Regions from separate parts of the Homo sapiens genome. Here regions 1, 2, 3 and 4 are each reported to be linked to region 5. Evidence: microRNA targets listed by miRTarBase, many of them from high-throughput screens and not tested one by one. Region 5 holds a microRNA gene; each other region holds the end of a gene's coding sequence.

Region 1 (4,151 bases), not on the chromosome of region 5:
AGAATCAAGTGTGCCCCACATCAGCATCTATGAAGCCCTCTATGAAGGTGGTTCTATCTGTTGATCACAATAAAAAAACGATTGTGGATGAATTCATTCCGGTTTCAGATGAAGTGTGCTACAGGTGGCCCCTTAACCCACTGGCTGGAAACACTGCTCAGGAGGCTAAAGATAGGAGCTTTTGAAGCCTGGTTCTCTTCAGAGCCCCAGGGAAGGAGCAGGGGAGCCATCTGGCCCTAGGCGAGGCTGTCTCCCCTTCCCACCTTCTCTGTCAGTGAGGCCTCACAGGTCTCTGATGCTCTTAATCCCTTTCTTCTCTACCCAGGCCCCTACGATGGCCACGTACCAGGTGGTGGAGCTGCGGATCCTGACTAACTGGGGCCACCCCGAGTACACCTGCATCTACCGCTTCAGAGTGCATGGGGAGCCCGCCCACTAGCCCTGCTTACTGGTGCCTGCTGCCAGCCATCTGGGAGTGGGTGAACAGCACCCCGCCGCTTCCCCCACACGCTTGCTCGGCGCTCTGACTTCTAGGAGCACAAGAGAGGAGCCTGTGGCCCCATGCAGATGAAAAGGACGGGCAGGGTCTCCTGAGCAGCAGGTGGCTCGAGGCGGTTAGCAGGCTCCAGCAGCTCCCTTCTTCCTTCCCTCTGTGCCCGTGGCGTCTGCTTCCCATCCTGGGAGTGTGTATATATGTAGCATATCATGGGGGACTGGGAAGTTGGGAGAGGTAGGACCTGACTGGTCTTGGCTGGGGTCAGGGGCTGGTGCCTGGGAGCTGATGAAGCAGGTGCCAGGGCTGTGGGAGGGGCAAGCTACGGCCTGGGCTAGGTGAGCTGCCTCTGCCCCTGGGCAAGGAAGCGAGGCCCTCTGGGAGGAGGGTGCTTAGCTCCAGAGCAGGATGGGACTTCCCCAGGCAGGAAGCACTTGATGGAGAGCTGCCCAGCTCTCCTACAAGGTTAGTGCCCTCCACCTAGGGAAGCATGAACCACAGGGTCCCTGAGGGCCTTCGACAAAAGTGTGTATTTGTCCCGGGGAGGGTAGCAGTGGGCCATGGGGCTTCTTGTGCCCTAAAGGGGACTGGCTGCTGTGATCTTCTAAGGGGCCCAGGGCCAACCCTGTAGGCTTCCCCTCTGCTGGGGACGGTAGTTGCTTTTCTCTCTCCTGATGCTAGGTTGGGGCCCACCCTGCTCCCTGTTCCTGCTAGGGCCTGCCAGTGCCCCTGAGCTTGCTTTCCACATTCTCCCAGGGTATGGAGACCTAGACCTGTCTTTGGGGCCATTAGCATCTGGGGTTATAGCAAGAAGAGTGGGGAGCATGGAACTCCTGGGCTCTTGTGGGGACGTTCAGGGTATCGGGGTGCGAGGTCTGTCTGCACCGGCCCCCACATCTAACCAGGCCCTGATGTAGGGGTCGTCCGCTCAGGCTGCCCCCTTGGGCTCTTGCAGCTCTTGTTCAGGTAGTCGCCCTTCTGGTTTGTTCTCTGTGGGGCAGTTGGTGGGGGCTGGGGGAAGAGGCTGGCAGAAGTTACCCTGGATAGGGAAGGGGGAGGAGGGGACTTTTAGAGCCAGCAGGCCCCACTGTATTATGTATATATTTTTCAAGGTCTGTTTTTCTAACTGAAAAGCTAAGGGCTTGATTCCTAGCCCCGTTCTGTGGGGCACTGGGTGATACTCAGTTTCTTGTTCCTGGCCGTGGAGAGGGGCCTGGGGCACTGGTTCCGGCTGTGTCTGGTGGTCTGGCTGCGGGGAAGGGGCAAGAAGGCGGGCAGGCCTTCACTGCAGCACTGAGCCTCAAATCCGCTCTGGAGCATGAGGCTGGATGCAGTGGTGGTGAGGCCGCCCCGCTCCATCCCGAGGCAGCCAGGGTTTGTTTTGCGCTCTCCTGTCACAAATGCTGCACTATTGGTTCTTAAGTTTTTTATCTCCAGATCCTAATTTATGCCTATGCAAAAAATAAATGACGCCCAAGAGCTGTGGGATGTGGCTTTCATGTGGCTTTTGCCTATCACCTAGGGCAGCTGCTCTTGGGCAGATGAGGGAATGAATTCTTGGCCAAACGAATGTCCCCAAAGACTTATTCCTGAAGTTCAGAAACCCACAACTTTCAGCTAAAGCCCAGTTGTGGTGGGGGATGGGACCTGAGGCAGGTCTCCTCCAGTGTTTGTGGGTCAAGGGCTGGCATGAGGAAGCAGTGAGGTGGCTTTATTAGCTGTCATTGATAACCCATCACAAAGGGTGGGGCGGGAGCAGTGGGGCTTTCCTGTCTCTCAGTACCACTGAACAGCAGCAGAAAAAGTTACACTTACCTACCAGCCACGTCCACTTGGAGTGCAGTGATTCTCCTCCATGGGAATTCGCTATTTGCCCCTTGGACCTGTGACTGGGAAGGGACAAGGAGGTAGGTCCCTTGAACAGCCAGCAGCTTAGGAGAAAAACAGGCCCTGACCTTTCCCACAGATAGCTCCCCAGACCTGGTTCGCGTGGTTCTCTAGCCTGATCCTGGAGCCTCTCATACTGACCGTGGCACCTGGCCCAGGGCTGCTCCTCATCATGGCTGAGAAAACAAAGGCAGAAAGCCAGTCAGTAGGGAGGACTGTGGAGACAGCCACAAGGCAGGAGCTGGGTGAGGCACAAATCCAGCCCCCAAAGCCTTGGGCCAGCTCCTCAGCCTCTTGGGAGACAGCTGGTCCTGTGCTCACTCCCCTTCACTGACACCTGCTCTGCCTCTGACGCCATCTAAACAAAGGAGACATCCCCACGCAGCACCAATAAACAAGCCCCTGGAAGTTGCCACACACTGTGGCAAGAGTCCAGAGCCTGGGCTGGGCACATGCCCTCTGCCCATCTGTACATTCAAATCCTACTGGGCCCTCACAGCACAGCCCTCACACTGCCGGCTCCATGGTACTTCCCCCAACCCAACTAAACCTGTGCTGCCCCTGTGCGTGGCATATTCATCCCTGTGACCTTCTCTGTGCCAGGGTGGCTGATAAGCCAGAACAGTCCTGACTGTGGAGTCAGGGGTCTGGCCATCCCCATCCCACCATCACAGGCCTTACTCCTGGGAAAGACGCCACAAACACCTGCTGCACACACAGAAGGGTCAGGCCTTGCCATTGGAGGTGATTGGATTAACAATTTTATTCTGCATCCACTACAAAAGGGCTGGTGTTTTGTTCCAAATGTTTAGCTGGGAGGGCTGTAGGGACCCCTGTTACCCCCATTAAACACAGTAAAGCATGGATCCAGTCAGCCCCCTGCTGGCAGGTGTGGGCCTGGCAACTACACAGATCCAACCCCACCCTCCTGGGTGCGGCCAGAGGCCAAGGCAGTCGCCCGAGCTCCTGAATCCCAAGAATGGTTCTGGCAAGTACTGCTGTTTGTTTGTAGGGGCAAAGAGTTAAAATAAAACGAGGTTCTGCCATGGCTAAGCCTTGTGGAAACCAGACCCCAAAGCCCCTGCCATGCCAGGGGTCTCAACGCCAGACGCTTGTTATGGAGGCACCAGCAGGTAGTGGCCCCTGTAAGCAGGGCCAGAGTCGGGACAAAGAGCAGGAGTGAAGCAGCCAAGAGACAGAGGACCAGGCTGGAGCCAGTGGGCACGCAGGAGCCTGCCTGGGAAAAGCCGGGGGGCAAGGCTGGCATGGGAATGAACACCTGCTGGTGACACCTCTCTGAGCTTCAGTTCCCTTAACTAGAAAAATAGAACAGGCCCGGTGCGGTGGCTCATACCTGTAATCCCAGCACTTTGGGAGGCTGAGGCGGGTGGATCATGAGGTCAGGAGATCAAGACCACCCTGGCCGACATGGCGAAACCCTGTCTCTACTAAAATACAAAAAGTTAGCTGGGCGTGGTGGCGTGCACCTGTAGTCCCAGCTACTCAGAAGGCTGAGGCAGAGAATCACTTGAAACTGGCAGGCGGAGGTTGCAGTGAGCAGAGATCACACCACTGCACTCCAGCCTGGCAACACAGCGAGACTCCGTCTCAAAAAAGAAAAAGAAAAACAGAACAAACATCGACCTCAGGGGCGGCTGCTGGGAATGTCAACAGGAGCGTGTGAGACTCCTGGCAGTCCCAGCCAGAGCTTTCCTTTGGAGCCTGCCCAGGGCACAGAGGTGGCAGGGTGGCTAACGGTGTGCAGACCGCT
Region 2 (4,208 bases), not on the chromosome of region 5:
GGCCTTTCTGTGGTAGACAATTTTGTCAGCACTTATTTGGGGATCACAGCTCTAGCTAAATTAGAATTTTGTTTCCCATCCTCTTCCAGAATTTCAAAATATTCTATAAAGGTGACAGATGTAGTTGAAGGCAGTTCTGAGGCTTTTCTAGGAGGACACTTTAAATGGATTTTTTGTTTTGTTTTTGAGGGGGATGGAGCCAAAGTACCTCATGGACTAGAAAGTTGTTTTTTTCAAGAGTAGAAAAAAAGTGGGGCTGGACGCGGTAGCTCATGCGTGTAATCCCAGCACTTTGGGAGGCTGAGGCAGGTTGAGGTCAAGAGTTCAAGACCAGCCTGGCCAACATGGCAAAACCCTGTCTCTACTAAAAATACAAAAATTAGCTGGGCGTAGTGGCGTGCGCCAGTAATCCCAGCTACTTGGGAAGCTGAGGCAGGAGAATCACTTGAACCCGGGAGGAGGCTGCAGTGAGCTGAGATTGCACCACTGTACTCCAGCCTTGGCAACACAGCGAGACTCCATCTCAAGAAAAAAAAAAAGTGGGATGATTACCCAAAAAAGTATAGATAAGTGGAGCAGGAATACAAACAGAGGGGTCGTGGGGCCACTAAGAATGACACAGGTCCTCAACTGGGGAGTATAAGCTGTAACAATGCAAAAATATAACATCCAAACCTCTAAGTGATCCCTCACATTTTACGTGTCAGACCCTAGTGGTAACCACAGGAAAATAAAAATAAAATGTTAGGGCAAGAGAGGACTTTGGAGCTAATCTAGTCTAACCCACTTGTTTCAAATGAAAAGGCCCAGAGAGGTACAGTGATTCAGTCCCACCTCACTTAGAGTGGAGTCAGGATACAGACCCAGGTGCTCTCACTATGAATTGCAGGTAAGGCTCTGTTCAGGTAAAGGGAATAAATGACTCAGGGAGCAAGAGGCTCGAGCTATCCCCGCTGGACTTCCTATAGCCCAAAGTAAGCACTGGGAAATGTCAGGCACATTCTCTTGCAGGTAGGAGAAAGCAGCCTGGTCAATTCCAAAATATTGAAGCAACGTTGATGTAAAGTGTCACTAACACATGATTCTTCCAATAGTCTTTTCTGCATACTTTTTTTTTCTTTAAAAGAAAATCCCAATCTGAACCAAACTGGATTTCTGATTAGTTATATGGGCATTTAGATCAATTGGCAAAATAAAAACTTTGATACATTACCTTTTCCAAAGACATATTCATTGGAATTCTACATAAATGGATATCAAAAGATATTTACAGGAAGAAAGTGCTGTCTTTCACACAGACACCCATATACAGGGAGAATTTCACAATTAGACCACCATGCCTCACATAGAGGACTGCTAACAGACTGATAATGAGTTGACAAAATCCACACGTTATTCCACTTTTCAGTCACAAATAATCGTGTCTACACAAGTGTAAAATTAAGCAGTACATTCCAGACTTTTATAGGGGAACCTGCCTTGTATATATTGAGATACACATATAAATATGCTTTTAAGCAAGTAAGAAACCCATTATTTACTCCAGTTTTTCCCAACTCTCAATCTGAAGTAAAGAATAGCACATATACAAAACTTTGCCTTGTAGAAATAGCCCTTTGTGTTGTGGGGCAGAAGAAAAGGCAGCCATAGCACAATTTTTTTACAACATGTCTAGGCATCAAAAGGGCTAGTTAATGAAATCAAACAATTTATAGCCTATAGTCTTAAATATTGATTTTACATCACTGATTTTTAAAAGTTTTATTACAAAATTTTTATTTTATTCAAAATACACATGCTATCTTTGTCCACATTTCAATCCAAACCACCCAGTCACCCCCAATTCCAAAAAACAGGCCTTTGTTTTATAACATCGCTGAAAACAAGCCATTTTTGACGTGGGTTTGGAGTCATTATTCTATGACACTCACTCTGCCCTAAGGGGACTGGATTTTGTAAGGCTGCTTACTGTGGGGATGTCCACGGGAGTCAGTGACTCTCATAACAGAGTGGGACTGCTTTAGGAAATCCAAGTTAACATTAGGAGGTGACACCAGTGGGCACACTTTGGTAGAAAAGTACTGCACCGTGAGCTCCCTCCTTCTGCCAATCTCATTTGTTCCCAAATTGAGGAAAACAGAGGAGAAAAGGCAGGGAGCACCATCTACTACAACCCACCATGGCATACCACATTCTACTCATTGAAGGTTCACTGTAACCAATCTCACTGTATCCTCAAAGCATGATTGAAAGAGAGGGCAGGTGTCATCATACCATTGTTCAGATGAGGACAGTGAGGCACAGGACGGATGAAGGACTTGCCCAAGGTCCACAGTCAGCTAGGAGCAGCACCCAGGTCTCCAGGCCATGGGCCTTAGACACCATGTCTCTCGGTCACATGGCACCAAAGGATCACCTATGAGACAGGGACCCCCATCACACCCAGAATCCTGATTGTTCACAACTCACTACATCCTAACCCAATGTCTGTGCTTTGTTTCACCTGGTTGGTTCTGTTTATTTTCCTACAGTTTCTAAAAAGATCCTTTCAACCAAACAAATACATGTTAAACAGACAGCAATAAATTCTTTTTCGTTTGACCAAATACTCTGAAATAGCAACTCCAGAGACTCTAGAATTTGGTACGGACCAGTAGGAAAATTATGGAAATTATAGAATGCTATCATTCCACTTTTCATCACGTTGGAAACTCTAATCTAATCCCAGGTTGCAACTAAAATGCTGAAATAACCAAAATGGAAAGGATAGTCTTTCATAATGTTGTATAAAGTTTCTTTGCATCTAAAATCCTTAGTGTGTCCAAGATCACACTGTTGGTCACATCAGACAAGCAATGAAGGCAAGTCAGAAGGTGATACACCAAAAAAAGGCAGAGATGAGACTCTGGCCCCAGAAAAACAAGGAAACGGAGGCAGATAAAGAGCTCAGAGATGGGAAAATCACAGACAAATTTGGGGCACTTGACATGACTCCAAAGAGTTATCATGTGAGATGGTAAAAAGAGATTAGCTATTTTTACTAAAAATAAACACCATACCTTTTGGGGAAAGGGCTGCTGAGAAACAGAGAATTTACCTACCTTTGACAAAGTACAATATTATGCTGCTGTGGGCATCTAGCATTACACCAGCAAATGTCCCAAACCCAAGTGAATTCTTGACAGCACTTAAAGGCATAACTCAGCCCTTTTTACTCCTTAAAAATCTAAGTGGGGAACTAATCTTCTCGAAGGTTCCTGAGTCATAGTTTTGTTAAAATATTTACTTGCTTTTTTCAGATATGCTTAATATCAACTGTTCAGACTTTAAAAACCAACTTGTCACAGATTTTCTAGTGGACTCACTTTTCTAGTAAAAGTCTCACACTCTCAGTCAGTCTCACACACATTCACACAATCGTATTATGAATTTTAATGTGACAAATTAAAAATATCTTTCATTGCAGAGGCTCTATTATGGACAGAGCATAATATCTACATGGATACATCAGAAATTATTGTATGTCATGAAAAAAATTATGTCACAAATAAAGCCCCACCCAACTGCTGATTTTCTATATGAAACACAAGTGGGCTTTTCATTTGTTGTGGGTAAGGCCACACCACTGGCCACATTATTTGGTTTCTCCAGAGGCCACTATCACTGACCCCCAAAGCAAAATAGAGGGCTGGGGGCACATCCCCATTTTTGATGTGCTGATGGCAGATCCTCCACCAGCAATATGAATACTTTTTTTGTTTTTAAATATCATCATCTTTTTGAACATTTATAAAAACTATCTACAATATAATAGTGTATCATCACTAATAGAAATTTCTTCTCAGTTCTATTTCAGAAGGTGTCAACTGATCGTGCTCTTTAAATAAACGATAAATACCCCATATATTCCTTCATGTCTAGTTGTTTCAACTTCTTCTTCTTCTTTTTTTTTTTGGCAAATTAAAAAGGCGTATGGCTTCTTTTCGCCAATTTTTATATTTGAGGTTTAGCTTGGTATCCTGCGGTAAAAGTACATGTAGCCCAGGTCTTTAGGGGGCCTTTCTGAGGCACAAACTTTGTGGTCATTGTAAATCACCCATCTGAAAATAAGACAGAAGCATTTGATGGATTTAAGTCAGTTCCAGGAAACTTTACACAAAGAAGTCACTAAATCATATGGCGCACAACACTTAACCATGATGTTTTAA
Region 3 (3,000 bases), not on the chromosome of region 5:
CCAGGCTGGAGTGCAGTGACATGATCTTGGCTCACTGCAACCTCCACCTCCCGGGGTTCAAACAATTCTCGTGCCTCAGGCTCCCCAGTAGCTGGGATTACAGGTGCATGCCACTATGCCCAGCTAATTTTTGTATTTTTAGTAGAGACGGGGTTTCACCATGTTGGCCAGGCTGGTCTCGAACTCGTGACCTGTGATCCACCCACCTCGGCCTCCCAAAGTGCTGGGATTACAGGTGTAAGCCACCGCATCTGGCCTCTTTTTTTTGAGACGGAGTCTTGTTTTGTCTGTCGTCCAGGCTGGAGTGCAGTGGCGTGATCTTGGCTCACTGTGACTTCTGCCTCCCGGGTTCAAGTGATTCTCCTGCCTCAGCCTCCCAAGTAGCTGGGACTACAGGCACATGCCACCACGCCCGGCTAATTTTTGTATTTTTAGTAGAGATGAGGTTTCAATATGTTGGTCAGGCTGGTCTCTAACTCCTGACCTTGTGATCCACCTACTTCAGCCTCCCAAAGTGCTGGGATTACAGGCGTGAGCCACCGCACCCGGCTGAGATTTTCTTACTTGAGTTCCCAATGGGTCGTAAAGCAGCAGAGACAACTCACGATATAAACACATTTGGCCCAGGAACTGCTAACGAATGTACAGTGCAGTGGTGGTTCAAGAAGTTTTGCAAAGGAGACAAGAGCCTTGAAGAGAAGTAGTGGCCAGCCACTGGAAGTTGACAATGACCAATTGAGAGCAATATTAGAAGCTGATCCTCTTACAACTACATGAGAAGTTGCCTAAGAACTCAATGTCAACCATTCCACGGCTGTTCAGCATTTGAAGGAAATTGGAATGGTGAAAAAGCTTGGCTGGGCGCAGTGGCTCATGCCTGTAAATCCCAGCACTTTGGGAGGCCAAGGTGGGTGGATCACATGAAGTCAGGAGTTCAAGACCAGCCTGGCCAACATGGTGAAACCCCATGTCTACTAAAAATGCAAAACTCAGATGGGCGTGGTGGCGGGTGCCTGTAATCCCAGCTACCTGGGAGGCTGAGGCAGAAGAATCGCTTGAACCTGGGAGGCGGAGGTTGCAATGAGCTGAGATAGTGCCATTGCCCTCCAGACTGGGCAACAGAGCAAGACTCTGACTCAAAAAAAAATAAAAATAAAAATAAATCATGGTTCAAAACCACAGTTACTTTTGCACCAACCTAACAAAATATGGTTCAAAATAAAAGTCTGAATTTCCTATTGTTTTTGGAAAATCAGGTTTGACAACCCTATGTTGATTCCACCATCTCTCTCCTCATGTCCTGGGAGAGGATTTTGCCTCAGTGATCACAAATACAAGTGAACAGTGAAGGCCATTTCCACCTGACTCAACAGAAATGTTGGCTGGATCACAAAGGCTGTATCAATGGCCTAGACCTCCCTTCTCTATCCTTGTTTTCCTGCCTGCATAGCAATGACCTTGAGGTGAAAATCCCAGAGGCTACAGGATTCCATAAAATTTCTGACAATGACCTCAGCTACACAAGATACACAATTCTGTAGGTCCTGAGGATTTCTGTACCTGCTCATCCTTAAGAGCCATAATAACGAACATCATGGAAACCTCTGTAAAAGGGGCACATTCTATTTATTGCAGTGTTATTGCAGTTTTCCACTCTCTATCAATCCAGTACTTCTATAACAATTATAATTCCTACTATAATCTTACCACCTGTGGTGCTACCCTGTGGAATTCAGGATATCAAGGCATACAGGACCTGGGGAACAGATTTCCCCCACTGGCACTGAACACGATGCAGTATTCCTTGTGAACAAGAGAACAATTTCATGTTGCTTTCAGAAACATCAAAGGATGTCAAGTAACTGCTGCCTCCTCAGGCTGACCTCTATGGCATCCAGGATATAAATTAGGACAATACCCTGTAGTTTTTTCTCAGAGGCCTTGAATAGCAATGAAAACTAGGCTCAAACTAGAGAGAGAGCTATATTCTGCCATCCTACTGTCCCTGTCCCTGTCCCTGTTGAGCTACACAATGTTTGGGATCTCCAAAAAAAGTTATTCACCCCTTCATGTTAGCAGAACCCAACTGTTTTCAAACCAACCCATACATATAGAACCCCCAAGATTAATAAGGCCTTTGTTATTGTACAAACCAAGGCAATAAGAGGCAGTTGGTTCCCACAGTTGGTGATTTGAAGGCTGGCAAACTCTATCAAGAGTCATGTGAGACCAACAATATCCTGAAATATGTAGTCCCTCTTTTCAGGTCACCAGCAGAGTCCTCTGGGCCAAACTGGGTCAGGTCCATGGCCTAACTCATCAGAAAGGAAAAAAAAAAAACGGAATAAATGCTTAGGCTATTTACAAATTCCTCCCATGAACAGAACACCAAGGTTCACTTACCTGAATACACTGGGATGGGTGAGTGGTGCACACTGGTGGTCACCTGCCAGGCAGTAGAGGTAAAATGGCTTCCACTATAGTATCAGCAGAGACATAAATCTGACATGGGCCCTGGGCAGGGCAAAAGGTGCAATGCAGTTCACACATACCTGGAATTTATGCAGATGTTCAGATATAGGATGTTCAATTCAGGCTGATGCCACCCTCATAAGGGATCTCCTTCAGAGCTGTTATATCAACTGGACATCCCTACATATCAAAAGTGTCTTTCCCTTGTGAACTGTGTGGCACTCAATGAGATATGGCCTTCAGCTGAAGCTTTCTGACATTCACTGTGTACTCAAGGACTTTCTCCAGGGTGCTAACAGATTTTCCACATTTGCCACTCATAAGGCTTTTATCGACTATGAATTCTCTGATGTTTAATAAGGCTGGAGTTATGGCTAAAGGATTTCCCACATTCCGTGCACTCATAAGGCTTCTCCCCAGTGTGAACCCTCCTGTGCTTAATGAGGCCGGAATTTTGAGTAAAGGATTTCCCACATTCACTGCACTCATAGGGTCTTGATCCAGTGTGAACTCTCTGGTGTTTTCGGA
Region 4 (4,414 bases), not on the chromosome of region 5:
CCCAGCTACTCAGGAGGCTGAGGCTGGAGTATCGCTTGAACTTAGGAGGTGGAGGTTGCAGTGAGCAACCTCCGAAGCTGCAATCATTGAGATCCTGCCACTGCACTCAAGCCTGGGCAACAGAGTGAGACTCTGTCAAAAAAAAAAAAAAAAAAAAAACACAAAAACTATAAAACTTCTAAAGGGAAAACTTTAGGAAAAAAATCTTTGCAAATGTGGGTACAGCAAAGATGTCTTAGATTTGACACTGAAACCATGATCCATTAAAAAAAAAGGCTAGACACAGTGGCTCATGCCTATAATTCCAGCACTTTGGGAGGTCAAGGCAAGAGGCTCGCTTGAGCCCAGGAGTTCAAGACCAGCCTGTGCAACATAGTGAGACCTCATCTCTATTTAAAAATAAAAAACTGATAAATTGGATTTCATGCATATTAATGTCTTCTGCTCTTTAAAAGACACTGTCATGATGTGCACCTGTAATCCCAGCTACTCGGGAGGATGAGGTGGGAGGATCACTTGAACCTGGGAGGCAAAGGTTGCAGTAAGCCAAGATGGTGGTACTGCACTCCAGCCTGGGTAACAGAGTGAGACCCCATCTCAAAAAAAAAAAAAAAAAAAAAAGACACCATTGTGAGAATGAAAAGGCAAACCACAGGCTAGAAGAAAATATTTAAAAATCACATATCTGAAAAAGACTTGTATCCACAATAAATAATGACCTCTCAAAGATTAATAAAACAAAAACAACACAATAAAAACATGGGCAAAAAATATGAGCAGACACTTCATCAAATAAGTTATATGGAACACAAATAAGCACAATAGTCATTAGAGAAATGCAAATTAAAACCACAATGGGATAGCATTAAACAATTAGAATAGCTAAAATTTTAAAAACTGACATCAAGTGTAGGCATAGATGTATTGGAAGTACAACTGTCATACAATGCAAGTGGAAATGTACAATGGCACAACCTCTTTCGTAAAACAGTTTTGAAGATTCTCAAAATGTTAAATAGGGTATGGTGGTGCACACCTGTAGTCCCAGCTACTAAGAGTAGGACAGGGGGACTGAGGCAGGAGGATACCCTGAGCCCAGGAGTTTGAGTCCAGCCTGAACAACAAAGCAAGAACTGCCCCCCACCAACCTCTAAAAAATAAAAACATAATAAAAATTTAAAACGTTTAATCTATACCAATCTACCTAATGACCTAGCCATTCCACTCCTGTATCAAGATAAATGAAAGCATATATTCTTACAAAGATGTGGACACAAATGTCCATAGCAGCTTTATTTGTAATAGCCAAAAACTGAAAACAACCCAAATGGCCATCAACAGGTCAATGAATAAACAAATTATGGCATATCCATACAGTGGAATACTACTCAGCAATAAAAAGGAATGAACTATTGATATATATGCAACAACATGGGTGAATCTCAAAGTAATTATGCTGAGTGAAAGACACCAGACCAAAAAATAAAGGAAAATTAATCCAAGTGACAGAAAGCAAACCAGTGGTTGCCTGTGAAGGGCCAAGAGGAAGGGATTATGGAGGGGTACAAGCAAAGTTTTGGGGTGGTGGCTGATTATTATCTTGAACTGTGATAATTGTTTCACTAGTATATTGATAAGTCAAAACTTACCAATAGGATTATAATAATAGGTAAAAATTTTTTTTTTTTTTTTTTTGAGACGGAGTCTCAATCTGTCACCCAGACTGGAGTGCAGTGGCATGATCTTGGCTCACTGCAACCTCTGCCTCCCTGGGCTCCTGCCTCAGCCTCCCAAGTAGCTGGGACTACAGGCACATGTCACCCCACGCCCAGCTAATTTTTTGTACTTTTAGTAGAGACAGGGTTTCAGTGTGTTAGCAGGATGGTCTTGATCTCCTGACCTTGTGATCTGCCCACCTCAGCCTCCCAAAGTGCTGGGATTACAGGCATGAGCCACTGTGCCCGGCCAATAATAGGTAATACTTTTATTATATGTAGTCACTGTTTGAAACACTTCTACAAATAATGCATTTAATCCCCAACACAAACCTATGAGGTAGATTAACTGTCATCCTCATTTTACAGATAAGGAAACTAGTGCAGTTTTTGTAACTTAACCAAGGACAAACACCTGGACTCAAACCAAAGTCTGCCTGGCTCTGTATTATTAATCACTACTCTCTGCTTCCTGCAAAATCAAGCTGGCTGCCAGAGGGGATGCTAAAACCTAACACATTTACATCTTCCCTCATTTCCACAGGTAACAGCAATAATGGTAGGTTCTTCCATGATCATAAAAAATAACTAGATGGAATTGCAAGAAAATGCTGCCTGCTTTGAGGTCACTTGAAACAGCAATGAGAATAAATTTAAGACAAATGGTGCCTTGCACCTGACTCAAAGAGTATATACATCCTGACTTTTGCAAAGGCACAGAGTACAACTGTCTAGTGAAGACAAACTGAAGAATAAGTAGGGTGGGTGGACACTGAACCTGAGATAGGTCTCTGGAAGTTTGCACCCTACTAGGAATGTCTTCCAAGATGCATTTGGCTCCACATGGACAGGGCCCGTTTTTGAATTTAGGAGACTTCTGACGTACGGACTGCAATAGGGAATCCATATATCTGTCTTTTTATTTACTGGTTTACTCCTTGTGTAGTGTTGCACATATGAGAAAGGATGCATGGGAGATAAAGATTTCAGATTTAAAGGGTCTGAAATGCCTTTATTCTATACTTATACTTTGGAGTATAGAATTGCAGGGGAAAACATTTTCCATGAGAAGTCTGAAGGCATACACATTGTCATCTGACTTTGAAGGTTGCTCTTGAAAAATCTAATGCCATTTTCATTTTTTACTGTTTTTGAGACAAAGTCTCACTCTGTCGCCCAGGCTGGAGTGCAGTGGTGCGATCTCAGCTCACTGCAACCTCTGCCTCAGGGATTCAAGTGATTCTCCTGCCTCAGCCTCTCTAGTAGCTGGGATTACAGGCATGCGCCACCATGCCTGGCTAATTTTTGTGTTTTTTTTTTTCAGGAGAGACGGGGTTTCACCATATTGGGCGGGCTGGTCTCGAACTCCTGACCTCATGATCCACCCGCCTCAGCCTCCCAAAGTGCTGGGATTACAGGCACGAGCCACCGCGCCTGGCCCCGCTTTCATTTCTGATCTTTTGTTTTCTCTCTCTAGAAACTTTTTAGGGTCTCATTTTTTCTCCATGATCCTCTTATTCAAACTTGGTGTTTTCATAATTCACAGCAATTTTCCTTAATGTAGGTTTCCCTTGAATCCATCCTGCTGGGCACCCAGCATGTCCTTTAAATCTGGAAACTTACATTTCCTTTTATGTTTCTAAGTTTGTTTGTTTGTTTTTTGGTCTTCTCTAACCATAAAGAGACTTCATGTTGGGGAAACAGGTTCAAAAAACTTAAAGAAGAGTTCATGATGAAAGCCAAGTGTCTAACCAGGAAGGACAGCGAGGACACTGATAAAAAGCATGAAAATAAAGAGAAAAAAGGAGAGGCACAGTGGGCCTAACTATGGATAGCCCTATGCTTGGACAGGTGTCTTCTGAGTGTGTAGTTTCTGATGCAGAATGAATCTTCCACACCAGCTGAAGGTTTTACCACACACTTTACACTCATAAGGTTTCTCGCCAGTGTGAACTCGCTGGTGCTGAATCAGGGTTATTTTCTGATTGAATGCCTTCCCACACTCCTTACATTCAAAGGGCTTCTCCCCAGTGTGAATTCGCTGATGCTGAGTCAAGGCTGTGTTGGAGCTTAATCGTTTTCCACACTCTTTACATTCATAAGGTTTCTCCCCAGTGTGCATTCGCTGATGGACAGTGAAACTTGAGCTGCAACTGAAAGTTTTCCAACATTCGTTACATTCATAGAGCTTCTCCCCAGTGTGGAACCTCTGGTGCTGGAGGAAGACAGAGCTGCTACTGAAGGCCTTGCCGCACTCCTTACATTCATAGGGCTTTTCTCCAGTGTGGATTCTCTGATGCTGAATCAAGGCTGTGTCTGAACTTAAACCTTTTCCACATTCTTTACATTTAAATGGTTTCTTTCCAGTGTGAATTATCTGATGCCGAATAAGTAATGAGTTATATCTGAAGTATTTTCCACATTCTTTGCATTCAAAAGACTTTTCACCAGTGTGACATTTCTCATGTCGGTGGAAGTCTGCCATTTGAATGAAATATCTGCCACATTGTCCACATTCATAAGATATCTGACCACTAGGATTTGTCTGATTTGTAGTGAGTTGTGTGCTGACGCTAATATTTTTTCCTAATTTCTCAAACTTCTCTCCATTCTTGACCTCATAGGCCTCATGGTGCCTGGCTGAGGTATCTGTGAAATGTCTCCTCTTTGACTTTGTCTTAATTATCCAATGACCTTGT
Region 5 (3,000 bases):
AGAAACACACTTACCGTTTTGTGGAGTCTGGTGCAGTTTGGCCACCTCTCTCTGTACACAGAGTCCTATGTTGCTTCTGAACAAACCGGGGCCAGGTAAAACATTCACTTCACTAAATTTATCATGAAACCGATTCAACTGAATTGATTCCATTTTGGCTTTATATAGCTGCAACCCTCATCTAACTGAGAGGCTGATATTTCTGTTTGCCATGTAATTTTCATACAATATTCCAGCTACATTTTCTATGGGGTTTTCCCAAGCCCCTGTTTGCAGAACAGTCTGTTCCCCCAGGGGCAGTGACCGTGAATGATGGCTTCCTTTATGTTTGTGATTATGGTGGCTACAAAGTGATGCTGGTCCATTGAGTATGACCAAAATAAAATACAAATATTCTTTCTGGCCATTAATGTCAATCTATCTCCACTATACTTAGAGGTTTCCCTTTCTAAGAGAAGAACATCATGCAAGCAGAATTTCCAAGTTCCACCTGGCTCACTGTCATGAAAAACAATTCATCTTCTGGAAGGGGCCATCCAAGGCTAACTGGGCAACCTACTTCCTCTTTGAAAATCCATATTTGACTCCTCCAAAGCCTGATCATTGTAGATGGGATGGAGAAGGGAGGTAGGGCACAGATATGGCTTGGTATTGATGGCCCAAGTTGCTGGAAATGGGGAGAGAGTGGGGATCCCATCCTGGAGATGAAAAAGGTGAGACTCTGAGGCCTGGCAGAGTCCTGCTGGCCCTTTAAGGCCTCATGGCCAGGAGATCACAGCTTAGGTTGGTAGGTCTTGGTTCTAATGAGACCAAGACAATTGGCCCCCTGGACTGGTGAGCTTTGTGATATTTTGAGACCAAAGACTATGCACTAATCTTCAGTGCTAAGAGATTAGCGCACAGTCTTCGGTCTTAAAATAGCATAATATTGGCCGGCAGCGGTGGCTCACACCTGTAATCCTAGCACTTTGAGAGGCCGAGGCGGGTCAGCTGAGGTCAGGAGTTTGAGACAAGCCTGGCCAACATGGTGAAACCCTGTCTCTACTAAAAATTCAAAAATTAGTCAGGCATGGTGGTGAGCACCGGTAATCCCAGCTACTCGGGAGCCTGAGGCAGGAGAATCACTTGAACCCGGGAGGCGGAGGTTGCAGTGAGCTGAGATTGCACCATTGCACTCCAGCCTAAGTGACAAGAGTGAAACTCCATCTCAAAAAACAAACAAACAAAAAAACCCAGCACAATATCTCAGGATCTGGCTGGCCCATGTACGTCCTTGATTGCAAGGGAACCCAAGACAGATGATGAACATGAATCCATTTCTGCCAGAGACCTCCCTCTTCTTGGTATACAAATGGAGCACAGTCAACACTCTCTTGACTGACGCCCACATTACTGACGGGACAGTCTAACACCCTTCATTCCTTCTGCTCACTGATGCTGCTGGCAGGCTTAAGACTAGAGGGTGGCAGGTTACTTCCAGAACACTCAAGTCCTTCTGTTCCTATGGATTGAGTCACATACAAAGATTAGATGTATTTACTTCTGATCCTGCTTGTGCCAGTTAGCTGTTCTTGGTATTTCAATTACACGGTTTAATTAAGTATTTCATAAACCAATGAAATATGAGTGGGAAACGAAAACTTTTTTTCCATGAAATCTAAATTGAGAGCTTCAAGAAAGACTTAATAAAAATAAGCAATACTAGGCTGGGGGTGGTGGCTCACGCCTGTAATCCCAGCACTTTGGGAGGCCAAGGTGGGTGGATCACAGGGTCAGGAGATCGAGACCAGCCTGACCAACATGGTGAAACCCCATTTCTACTAAAAACACAAAAAAATTAGCCAGGCATGGTGGTGCGCGCCTGTAGTCCCAGCTACTTGGGAGACTGAGGGAGGGGAATCGCTTGAACCTGGAAGGCGGAGGTTGCAGTGAGCCAAGGTGGTGCCACTGCATTCTAGCCTGGTGACAGAGCAAGACTCTGTCTCAAAAAAAAAAAAAAAAAAGCAATACTGCTACTGAATATTTAATTATTCAATAGAATTATTCAAAGAAACATGGTAAAAGAAAAAATGGTAAAAATCTATAAGTTCTGCACTCATATTATTTGACAAATACTTACATACTTATGTTCTTAGTACTCTTTAAAGAATCCTAGCTGGGATAGCCTGTCTTGACTTCATATTCTAACTTTTCTATGAATTTCTAAAATTTGGTTATATCACACATTTAGGGATGAGGATGGCTTATCATTTAATTCATATCAACAAACACTGGTTTAGCACTTGCCATTCCCACAATTCTAGACAAGGCCTTGTGGCTGATACAGAAAAGTAAACTTTTCAAGCTAAGGAAGCTTTTCTTTTAAACTAAGATGAATTATTTCTTTTGTAATTTCCTCCACTTCAGTTTTTCTATTTAGTTTTTTTCTATTTCAGTTTTTCTGGTGCTTCTTTTAGTTTGATATTGGATCTTTTGGTTTGATCTTCTAATTTTCTTTTTTCCTTCTTGCTTTCTCTATCTTATTTTATGGGAGATTATCTTGACTTTATATTCCAACTCTTCTATTACATTTTAAAATATTGGTATCCTACATTTAATTTTCAAGAGCAGCCCCTGCTCATGAGAAGGTGTAATTGGGGAGATAACATTTATCCTTCCATAGGAGGCAATGCAAGCCTAACATATTCACATAGGAGATAGATGGTGTGGAATATAATGATGCTACAGTGGAGAGTTGGGCTGACTGGATAAGTCCTCATAAAAATGTGGATTTTGAGCTGAACCGAAGGACTAAAGGACAGGAAGGATTTATATAGGTATGTGCGTGGGGTGGCAGAGAGATAATATCCTTGCAGAGATAAGAGAAGATATTGTATCTATGAAACAAGAACAAATGGTTATTAAAAAGGATATAATCTTGGAAATTAAATATATAACTACATTTTAGAAATTAATAGACATTTTGGGATGCCAAGGCGGGCAGATCACTTGAGGTCAGGA

Evidence for each region. Region 5 holds the annotated microRNA hsa-miR-4671-3p (UUAGUGCAUAGUCUUUGGUCU, at 855-875, opposite strand). A microRNA usually pairs through its seed, bases 2 to 8, with sites in the 3' UTR of a target mRNA and lowers its output. Matches are read on the target gene's strand: a 7mer-m8 pairs with bases 2 to 8, a 7mer-A1 pairs with bases 2 to 7 and ends in A, and an 8mer does both.
Region 1: the mRNA of SUN2 is a reported target of hsa-miR-4671-3p. Seed matches in the 3' UTR shown: 7mer-m8 at 1,898-1,904.
Region 2: the mRNA of USP13 is a reported target of hsa-miR-4671-3p. The part of its 3' UTR that is shown has no 7-base or 8-base seed match.
Region 3: miRTarBase lists ZNF154 as a target of hsa-miR-4671-3p. The part of its 3' UTR that is shown has no 7-base or 8-base seed match.
Region 4: the mRNA of ZNF620 is a reported target of hsa-miR-4671-3p. Seed matches in the 3' UTR shown: 7mer-m8 at 2,095-2,101.

What each region holds. Positions count from the first base shown.
Region 1 is chr22:38,732,555-38,736,705 of GRCh38, reverse strand. SUN2 (Sad1 and UNC84 domain containing 2) reads left to right here. Exons shown (of 18, transcript NM_015374.3): 18 at 326-1,972. The coding sequence ends at 439. It overlaps GTPBP1 (GTP binding protein 1), which reads right to left. Exons shown (of 12, transcript NM_004286.5): 12 at 3,119-4,151. Among named protein-coding and RNA genes, the nearest start is that of SUN2, 21 kb to the left of the region's middle.
Region 2 is chr3:179,783,940-179,788,147 of GRCh38, reverse strand. It overlaps USP13 (ubiquitin specific peptidase 13), which reads right to left. Exons shown (of 21, transcript NM_003940.3): 21 at 1-4,100. The coding sequence ends at 4,007. Among named protein-coding and RNA genes, the nearest start is that of PEX5L-AS2, 110 kb to the left of the region's middle.
Region 3 is chr19:57,698,835-57,701,834 of GRCh38, forward strand. ZNF154 (zinc finger protein 154) reads right to left here. Exons shown (of 3, transcript NM_001085384.3): 3 at 1-3,000. The coding sequence ends at 2,801. Among named protein-coding and RNA genes, the nearest start is that of ZNF154, 8.9 kb to the right of the region's middle.
Region 4 is chr3:40,516,002-40,520,415 of GRCh38, reverse strand. It overlaps ZNF620 (zinc finger protein 620), which reads right to left. Exons shown (of 5, transcript NM_175888.4): 5 at 1,680-4,414. The coding sequence ends at 3,553. Among named protein-coding and RNA genes, the nearest start is that of ZNF621, 6.8 kb to the left of the region's middle.
Region 5 is chr1:234,304,387-234,307,386 of GRCh38, reverse strand. It overlaps MIR4671 (microRNA 4671), which reads right to left and starts at 920; the gene lies at 848-920. The region is part of intron 3 of SLC35F3 (solute carrier family 35 member F3); the gene reads right to left.